Linked DNA regions of Homo sapiens: region 2 is linked to region 1. Evidence: fine-mapped expression QTL. A gene starts in region 1. The other region holds a variant in brackets. All regions are shown on one strand. Distances are between the middles of the regions.

Evidence for each region. PIP is the estimated chance that this variant, and not a neighbour inherited with it, causes the effect.
Region 2: its variant is fine-mapped to the expression of DNM3 in whole blood (INTERVAL, PIP above 0.99).

Annotation. Positions count from the first base shown.
Region 1 is chr1:171,839,499-171,844,880 of GRCh38, forward strand. It overlaps DNM3 (dynamin 3), which reads left to right and starts at 2,000. Exons shown (of 21, transcript NM_015569.5): 1 at 2,000-2,319. The coding sequence starts at 2,159. RefSeq lists a silencer at 1,815-2,044 and an enhancer at 2,245-2,424.
Region 2 is chr1:172,415,387-172,420,768 of GRCh38, forward strand. All of the region lies in intron 1 of LOC102724528 (a long non-coding RNA gene), which reads right to left. C1orf105 (chromosome 1 open reading frame 105) reads left to right here and starts at 5,299. Exons shown (of 7, transcript NM_139240.4): 1 at 5,299-5,382. It also overlaps a transcript of DNM3 not described here. The variant T/G (reference allele first, on the strand shown) is at 2,907.

The DNA of each region.
Region 1 (5,382 bases):
CTGAGGACAGGATTACAGTTGGACATCAGACATGAACAAGATTGAGGATACAGGTACTATCCGGATCTTCCCTCTTCTTTCCCTGTGCTCCTCTCCTTGTGTCTTTTCACTTTTCTCTTTCTCTGAAGATGAGCACTTCCCTTCTACTGGTGAAATCTTACTAACCATAGTTGCCAATGTTATTCCTCACTTATAGTTCAGTCACTCAGACAAAGGCCAATCTCTCTCTCAATTGCATACTCCTGGGAAAAGGCTTTGATTGGTAAAGCTCAAGTCAGGTGCCCAATCTGGTGCACACAGCTATGGCCAGGGCTCAGTTTTTCTTCATGCCTTTCTATCTTCATGACTGCTCTGGCTACAACCATGCATTGGATGGAGTGTTTCTTAGAAAAGGTTTCCTGGGCAGACATTCTAATAGAGATCCACTTCAGTGGAGATGCATTCAGTTTTATTTGTCTTTTTCTGCTGCTTTAAAAAAAAGTTGAGATGTAATGTACAGTAAAATGCACATCACTTAAAAGTTTAGTTTGAGGAGTTTTGACAAATGTATGCCCACATCCCAGTCAAGACATGGGACATTTCCATCACTCCAGAAAGTTTCCTCATGCCTCCTACAGTCAATCTCCACTCCTCAAAGACAACCACAGTTCCGATTTCTATTACCATAGAATAGCTTTGCTGGTTGTAGAACTTCACATACATGAAATCAAACCAATATGGTCTTTGGCCTTTTTCATTCTACATAATGTATCTGAGATTGTTGCTATATCAAAAGTCTTTTTTGTGGCAGAGATTATTTCACTATATATATATACCACGTTTGTTTATTCATTCACCTGTTGATAGACATTTGGGTTGTTTTCAGGTTTTTTGACATTATGAACATTTTAATATGTCTTTTTAGAGTTAGAAGGAACTGTACATTAAATGCTGAGATTACAAAAGATGACTTCAGTTTTGAATAAATTGAGTCTGTAGTACTTGTAGGACACTCAGGTAGTATTCTGGGCTCCTCTTGGAGTACAGTCTAAGTTGCAGAAGAGAGACAGGGTCTAGCAATGTAAATTTCTGTAGTCGCCAGCCTTGATTCAGAGTTAAAGCTATGGGAAAGTCCTCAGGCAGAGGACAAACATTAGACAAGAAAATGCCCATATATGAAACCCTGCGAAGCATCAGTATTTGAGGAGCAGACTAAAAAGGAACCGTCTGTGGAGGCTAAGAGAAGCATGGCCATTTATCTTTGTGTCCCGATCATCAGGCACAGGACCCCACACACAGTCACTTCTCAATGTGCTAAATTTCACAGAATGCGTCCAGGGTACCTGGTTCTGGATAGATCCGGTAGAAGGAGATAGACCGGGAGGGCAAATGGCATGAGGAGTCTCACAGGCCAGAGTGATTAAAGGGGTGTATCGGGGCGGTAAACCCTACAGACTCTACCTGTGCTTATGCGGGGCTGGGGAGGACGAGTCATTACAGATGAAGAATTAAGTAAGGTCAGACCACTCAGGGCCTTAGATGGATGTCACATTGAAGAATTTAGACTCCAACAGGCCTGCCACCCTGGGAGGAGTCATCGCGGATTCTGGAGAAGGGCGTGACAGAGGAGATTTCCTTTCGGGAAGTGTAGTCTGGCAGCGGTGCCCCGGTGGTGGCGGCGGCGGTGCTGCTGTTGCTGGTGATCGTGTGGTGGTGTTAGCGGCGATAGTGCTTTCCACTGGGCTTTGGCTTGGTAGCCGCTGAAAGAGAACAACGCTGCCGCTGCTGCTGATTTCATGCCATTTCCTGACCCGGCGCTGTAACTTGGCCTCTGAGCCTTGGCCACAGAACGCAGAGGCCGTGGCATCTGGCCGCAGCTGGGCTGCAGTGCGTGCGCGCCTGGCCTGGTGGTCCGATGGGAAGCCCGGGGCGGGGCAGCCGCGGGGCGGGGGCGGGGCGTCGCGGAGATAGGCCACGCCCCTGCCCGCCCGCGCAGGCGCGCTGCGGGTCGTTAGCTGTCAGAGCCAAGCGGCGGGCTGGCGGCGGGCTCCGACGTCTGCGCCAGGACCTGGCTGGCTGAGCCCGGCGCAGCAGCAGCAGCCAGGGCAGCGCGGCCCCTACTCCCTGTCAGGTCGTAGAGGCGAGCAGGGACCAGCTGGTCGCCGGCCCCTCGGGCAAGATGGGGAACCGGGAGATGGAGGAGCTGATCCCGCTGGTGAACCGTCTGCAGGACGCGTTTTCGGCGCTGGGACAGAGCTGCCTGCTGGAGCTGCCGCAGATCGCCGTGGTGGGCGGCCAGAGCGCCGGCAAGAGCTCGGTGCTCGAGAACTTCGTGGGCAGGTAAGCGCGCAGGGCGCGGAGTAAGGATGCGGCAGTGGGGCGACCCCGCTGCGGGCCGTTGGAACGTGGACGGGCAGCGGGAGCCAGAGGGTGGATGGACCAGGCGCTGCGGTGGAATGGGGGGCAGAGTGGAATGGGGGGCAGAGTGGCGGTGTCCGTGGGGCGGGCGGGGTCCTCCAGCTCTGGGCATCCTCCGTCCCCTGCCACCCCCCGCCTGGTGGCCCTCCTGCCTGCCTTTCATCGTGCGATACAAAGCCATTTCCTCCCTGTCCTCCAGTCGGGGAGTCGGGGGAGGGGTCCGCCCCGGGCTCGACCCCCACCCCCTCGGTGCGCGCCAGCCCCGGGCAGCCTCCCTGCGTAGCGCGCCGAAAGCTTCCCAGTGCCCCTCTCCTGTTTTCCCAGCTCAACACCCCCCTCCTTTTCCTGTCGCCCTCCGTGAGGCTCCCTGTGAGGCTGTGGGGCTTTATCCCCCGAGCCCCCTCCCTTAGGTGGAGATGCTTTCCTTCTCGCCAGGGTTCTCGTTCCTCTCAGCTGTCTACTGTTGCCTGCCTCTAGCTGGGGAGGCGGGGTGCGAGGAGAAAGACGTCGTTTGTTGTGGTGAAGCTTTATCCAGAGACGCTTCCCCACCATTCTCCTCCCGGAGAGTCGAAGAATAAAAGGTGGTGTGTTTGCGTGTGCACCTATTCACAGCTTCAGGCAATTGTGAGAGAGCCCGAGGCACAGACTTGGCAGGGGGTGGACGTGGACTTATGTTGTCCAGGTGCCATGTCATTCCTGCATCATCTCGGAACTGACCAGCATCTTTCTCGCACTCTCTCTGCGCCCCCTCCCCCAGCATCATCTTCCGTTCTCTAAGCTCCTATTTGTCTTGCTAGCCTTCAAGACAACATTCTGAATCTAAATTGTAGCTGTGGTTTTCCTCATGACTCTTAATACAGAAACAGCTAAGGAATTAATTTTCGAATTAGGAATCAGCATTTCTTCCACTGAGCAATTCATGAGGGATTAAGTTACCTTAATGGCCTTGCCTGAAGAGTGCAGACATTTGCTAAGAAAAGCCCATTTAAAAGCATTATGAAAACTGAAATCTGTTTCCTAGTAATAGAAAACCAGGTAGAAATGTACAGTATCCAAGAAAAAATGCTGGCGAGATTGTACTTTATTCTTTTTATTTGGCTCATTCGTGACTTGGGATGCAGAAGGTTCCTGTTTCTGTTCCTTTTTTCTTTTTTTGTTAGTGCTTGGTGATGTGTAGAATTTAGAGCTGAATATTCCCACATTTCCTTTGGAAATGTTAGTGTTCATAAAGTACATATTCCTTTCTCTCAAATGATATTCCATCTCTCAGATGATATTTTTTTTCCTGTATGAACTAGAAAGATAAGAAGCCTAACAAAGTAAAATTGCTGACAATTGGCTTGTATCCTTGAGTAATTCACTTAATCACTACACCTCATTTTTATATTTTTTTTGATTAATGAACAAAGTGAAGGTAAAGCATTTTGCCTACGTCATCTTAGACTTTTGGTGAAGTGATGGATTTCAAACATATAACAGTTACTTTCTTTGATTTGTTGCCAATGAAATTTACGAGATATAAAGTGGCATCCAAAGAGTGAGTTTTGGTAACATATTTTTGGCTTTCCAAAGCCAGGGCATTTTTGTCATGACACCTTAAGAGTTATTTAACTATTTTTGTTTTTTAAACAAATACTTAAAGATTAAAACTGTAAGTATTTCAAATGAAATTACCATATTTTTATGCATCTCCCATATATTTACTTGGATGAGCCTATATTGTATGCAAGTGCATTGTTTGTGGTCAGAGCTTTTGAACTTAATGTCAGTTGTATGCACATACCACAATTCTACATTCTAGGTTTTGAAATTCTAACATTCTTCCTAATGTTATAATAAAATTGTACACATCTCCCCACACTAGCTATGTTCTTTTGGAATAATTTGAAAAAAGAAATGTAGAAGAGTAAAATATTTAAGTTTGAATATTTTTCAAGATGGAATAAAAAATAGGGACAAGTATAAAAATCAGAGCACGTACCAGAATGCATTAGTAATTTGTTGTACTTTAAAAAGTTTTACCACTAATTGACTGTTAGAACGCCAAATCAAAGAAAAGGATGACCATAGAGGAAAAAGGTCATTTAATTCATATGTAAAGTCTTAATTATATGTAGAGATAACACCTGCCTAGCAGAGCTTACATATTAAGGAGAAAATTTAATTAGGAAGGTCATTTGACTTTAATAAAGATTTCGGTCATTGAATTATTGAGGAATCTAATTTCTAATTATAAACCAACCTTAGGGAAAATGGAGTTTTCTATTTTGATAAGTTATTCAGCCTAGGTGGAAAAAATTGTATCCATTTTCTACTGTAACATCTTAGCATTTTCTTGTCATTATCCAGGAATTTTGCAATAAAAACAGTTTCTTTCCTAAGGATGCAACTTTCCTCTTTTACACGAAACAGTTTTCATTTTAAGACTCGATCTAATGTGCAGTTATTGAATGCAGCCATAAAAACCAAGGGTCATCACTTGTGTAAATTCATTGTGTTTGCTCTTGACTCAAGCTTCTTCTCTACAAAATAATGATGCATTTTCTCAACAATCCTCATTTAGTGGACTAACTGTATCTTCTCTCAGTTTGTTTATATTGAGTTTTTTTGGACACCAATGAATGAATTCGGATGTGAATATGTTTACTTCATTTAGCGGTTGCTGTAAAAGCTGATTTTTGGGTGACAGGTTTGAGATTGTTATGAATAAAATGAGTCATGAATGAACCACTTGTTTGTGATTTTCTTGCTGAAGTGATGAACTTGCATATTAATGTGATATAGCATGAGTAACCAGATTGTTCTTTTGGTGGTGCAGGATGAGATATATGCTGGCAATGAGAGGCAGCTTAAGATCTAATGAATAGAATTTGAGACCTATAATCTGAACATAGGGGTTTACTAGCTGGCTTGGGTCTGCCTACTGGTCTGATTTGTATACAGAAGAATTGAATTTATTCAACTATTTTCATTATACGTATACAT
Region 2 (5,382 bases), 580 kb after region 1:
ATCAGAGAAGAATGTTGAAGACTATTCCTATTGCCTTTCTTTCCTCCCTTTCCCAAGCCTTCAGGCTCACTCACTGCTCTGGGTTATTAACTTACCTAAAGGATGGGCAAAGAAAGCAAACAGAGCATTTTTTGTGAGTTTTTTTTTTTTTTTTTTTTTTTGAGACAGAGTCTCACTCTGTTGCCCAGGCTGCAATGCAGTGGTGTGATCTTGGCTCACTGCAACTTCCACCTCCCAAGTTCAAGTGATTCTTATGCCTCAGCCTCCCCAGTAGCTAGGATTACAGGCGTGTGCCACCATGCCTGGCTAATTTTTGCATTTTTAGTAGAGACGGCATTTCACCACATTGGCCAGGCTGGTCTCGAACTCCTGACCTCAAGTGATCCGCCCACCTCAGCTTCCCAAAGTGCTGGGATTACAGGCATGAGCCACTGCACCTGGCCTTTTTTGTGAGATTTTAACAGAAAAGAAAAAAGCTATAAGGAAGACCTCCTCAGAGATCTGGCCAGAGGAATGTCACCATAAGACCAAATTTCAGCGTTGACATAGAGCCAAAAGAATGAGGGTAATTCATCATTCTTGTTAATAATTGAGTCTTTTATATATAAATTACACCCATGTTCCAGATACAGCTTTCCAATCTCCTTTACCTGATTTGGCCAAAACATGCTGCTTTGAAGTTATTTTTCAGAATGCTTAAGAAAATATAACCTGAAATTATAGTCTTGATTAGGTAAATTTGCTTATATGTTGAATACTAGGATGGTGAGCTTAAGAATTTGTTAGCAACTCAGTATTCCAATTTAGTACTGCAACTTTCATATGGGAGTGGCAATTGTATGAGGTACCTTTGTAGCTCTACATGTAAAAAGCCCAAATATTTGCAGCACTTGCCTTTAAGCATTTCGGCACTGTGTAAGTCATATAAAAATTATGCAAAAGAAAGAGCAAAAACCCCAACTGCCCATATCCTTAAAAGAACTAATTTTGACCCAGTAAATGGTATCATCAACAACAATGCTTTTTCAGCAATGACAGGAAGGGTAGATACAGTAAAGTGAAGATGAAAAGAAAAAGCTGTCTGAGGATATAAATGTCACCCTGATGTTTCAAGCAAACATTCTAGCTGTCAGTGGAATATATTCCAAGACATAAAGTTTCTGATCCTGTTTCTGGATCAGAACACCAAACTAGCTCAAACAGGAAAGTGTTTTGGCATATGCTAACAGAATGTCGCTTCAGCACTGTGGACTTGCTGTTCAGTTTAATGGCCCACCTCCCCACCCTGCTGAGGTCATTAAAGTGTTCTAAAGCCCCTTCAGAACTCGAAAATAGTTTCTGTTTTCTGGGCAGGTGATAAATCTCATTGAGCTCGACAGAAATTTAATTACACTTTCTTCATGAAAACACCAGGGATACCCATTACCTGGATCTCTAAAGCTAAAGCCTTGCAGACCCCCTAGCCCCTGCCCCGGCCCTGAAGTTGAAAGGTTAGGTACCAATAACAAGTTCTCCATCATTTAAATGGATGGGAGGCCTCTTTAGTGTAGTCAGCTTAAACTGGACTGAAGGAAAATTGATTTTGGACTTTGGGGAAGCTAAGATCATTTTTTACCACTGCCCAGAAATACACCAGTCAGTTTGGCTCCACTAACATCTCATAGAAAATGAAAAAGAAGTTTTTCTGTTTTTGTTTTTGTTTTTTTTTTATAGACTTCATTGCTCCACTCACAAGCAAGAATAAGATGTGTAACAAGAATAAGATGGAAGTGAGCGTTGTTGAACACCTGGATAAGAAGTCAAAGAGAGTAGGGTCTTGAGATAATCTCACCATTCTACAGCTTCCTATAATGTTGAGTTCATTAATGGTTTGGTTAGAAAGGGGAAATTAAAGTGTAGACTTCTGCCAAAAACCAGAGGGAAAGCTTTATTTGGCCTGCTGTTTTCCTACTTACAAAGCTGTTCATTGCAATGTAGGGTTTACTGTATTTTCTCTAGCTGCAAATCATCTCCCTGCTGAACACAAGAAAGGCTGATGTCAAATGAAGCACAACTTGGACCCTCATTTCATTATCCATAGGTCTGATGAAATGCAAGCCAGCCTAGGGAAATGGAGAAAGATCCAGCAGACCAGATTTCATTTACCTTGGGCCCACTTCAGAACAAATCAGAAATACAGTTATACCTAGCTCTTAGACAGAGGGAAATCCTAGAAAATCCTGGGGTTGCCATGGACCAGACCTTGCCTCCTAGTTTCCCTAGGCCTGAATCCAGGCTATTACACACCAGGACTACTCACCTGGAGCAAATTCTTATTTACAAATCCTTTTTTTCTGAGATCAACCTCTGGCATTCTCTGCATTGTGATTACATTGCTCATTTGATCTCTTGACACCTTCTAATTTACCTCACTTAAAAAAAATTTAACCTGCCATTGGCTACATCAACTCCCTCTCCCCCTATGGAGATTTCACAACATTCATTGAAATCTTTGGAAATAACTGAGTTTCACAAAATCAGGGTTGAAAATCAAATATACAAGTTATAAAGGTATTTGGCTCGGGGACTAGTCCCAGTTCTCCTGAATAAGAGTGCATGGATTTATCATTCCATGGTGCAAAATAAGAAGCTTTTTGAGTGAGCTCAAATGGCTCATACCTAGAACATTGCTAGTAGCCAGGAAAAGTCCTGGGAACTGCTAACTTAGCTATGTGATGTCCCTTCATTTCCTTTGCATGTCTGCATGTTTTTGTGTGTGATTTGAATTTGACTTTTGTGAGCTATTTTTGCATGCTATTATTTGGGTTTATTTTATAATTTAAACATTGTTTTCTTCCTCTGCATCTGTGTCTTTCTTTTTGTTATTTTGTTTTGTTTTGTTTTGTTTTTACTAGGCGACCCCCTCC[T/G]GCAGTTCCAGGACGACCATCCTAACCCCCATCATTCATCTCCTTTTGTTTCCAACAACATGTCTATCCATGGTATTTAAAAGCTTTTCATTTGCACTATATGTCGTATGTACATAAAAACTTTTATTTTTCATCCATGTGTATAATAAAAACAAAGTTTATTCTATATAAAAATGAAGTGTGTTCTGTTTCTTTTTTTAAAGAAGACCTAAATTTAAAAAAGAATTTGTTTCAACTAAAACAAGGTAAGGTGAATATATTATGTGTTCCTCTAAGAAGCTTAATTCAAAAGTTCTTAAAGCATTGTGATTTAAGACGGTCTTTGGTAGAGACTAATAATCTACCTTCAAGTGAAATTTCTGTCCAATAGAAGAATAAAAAGAAAAAGAAAATTTATGGATGTCTAGAAAAAACACAGAAGACTAAATAATTCCAATCCACCTCCAGGAATCCCATTTTTACTTATTATTGCACCAAAATATTTTTTCCTATTATTGTTTTTCTAAACACTCTTAAGGGAGATAAAATGTAAGATCATAGAAGAAACTGTAGAGCAAAAACACATAAACCTCATAAATTCTATATGGCAAATGTAAGGGCGAAAAACCACATCATTCAGAATAAAAGTACAAGGCAAGGAAATGTTGCCACCTTGAGAAGAAAGACTCTTCATGATGTCAGTAAAGCACTAGAAAAATGGAGTCCATATAAGTTTGAAGGAATAGAGAACTTTTTATTCCTCTATCCTCAAATGGTAATTCTAACACTAAAATTTTAATCTATAATTTTTTAACAAGCATCCCAAAGATGTATCCAAATAAAATGTTTATTATTTAGGTAATATAGTACATTCCACCAAATATGTGATCTGAAGCCTTCCCAAAGGTTTAAGATTTAATTCAGAATTTTATTTTTTGAAAATTTATGTGGCCTAAAATAGAACTTGAAAGTAGTCCTTCTCAAATGAGATCACTTCTGAATGTGCTCCCCTTCAGCATATTAAGATGACAGAAAACTACATGACAAGAGAGTCAAAAAAATCATTCATCAGTTCTATTTACTTCACATCTGACCTAGGCAAGCCCTGGCAAAGGAGGTATTTGGAAGATGTGGGCAGGAACCCCCAGTTGTAAAAGGGAGAGTCCTCATTAGTAATGCTGTTTCTTCGGACCACAAATTTTTTTAAGGACTGAGTTCTCCACTCAAAAATGAAAAATCAGTTTCTTGGTTTAAAATGTTCATATGGCATGTTACATTATTTTAATTGTATCCCCGGTCCAGTGACTACCATTTAAAATCAGTGATAACTAAGAAAGTTCAAAGGCTCCAAACCAAGGCATCAACTGAAGCTCATGTATAGCAGGAAGGAGGTGACTTGATGTAAAATAGCACATAGCATGCAGTCTTTTGTCCTTTCCTTCCCCTCCAGTCCAGGCATTTGATTTTTAAATCAATATTCTTAGTGGATAGCATTCTTCATCCCAATAGACAAAAATGTACCTAGATGATTTCATACCACCTCCCCAAATGAAAACCGAAGTTGTCAAAGAGAAGGTTTTCTTCAATTCATTTTTTAAAAGTGTTTGGTACTTTTCCACTTTGTCTTAAACATGGACTTATTTTTATATGCAGTGTTACACAGTTTAGATGTATAAAACTTAAATTGACCTGATGAATGATGAGAAGGAAAAACTCCAGTCATAACAGAATGAAATGACAACCTTACTCAGTTTTCCTTAACAAAGAAGTGTGTTCCCTTCCTTACATTCTATAGGCAAGAAAAAAGAGGGCAGGGGAAAGGGATGGGGGGCAGCCTGGAGTAAAATTAAATTATGCTAAGATTTGTTAATATGTATTTAGTAAATAGTATTTCTATGTTTCATAATATACCTTTCCCCAACTCTTCTTACCTCCACCTCCACCCTGCTATGTTTAATAGACTTGAAAAATTACTCCCTTTTTCAGAGTTGATCATAACTCAGGATAGTCAGGAAGAGCCAAACTATTATGCCTTTAGTAAACATAATATTCCTTATATATTTTCATTCCTTTATTTATGCATCAAACATTTCTTGAATTCATGATAATGTCCTGGACCCTGGGAATACCAGAGAAGTAACAGAATAAAAGTAGCTTACAAAATAGCTAAATAAGCAATTACAATGTAGTGCTACAATAAGAGAAAAGTTTGGTTGTCTTTCCAGGGAGAACTGTTCTGACTTCAGTACTGAAGCAGCTATCTGAGTTTTAGTATACTGTTATCAACTTTACCCAACACATGCTAATGTTCCAGAACATTGTGATTTTGACTTCTAACAAAGAAAGGAATACTAGAACTCATTTCAGCCAATCAGAAACTGAGCTTTTCATTCTGAATGGAATTATATGATTCAAGATGTAAATCACACAGATGTTGGTAGAGAAAAAGGCATACTGGTATTGAAACTGTAAACTGGCCTGTTTACTTCGTCTCCTA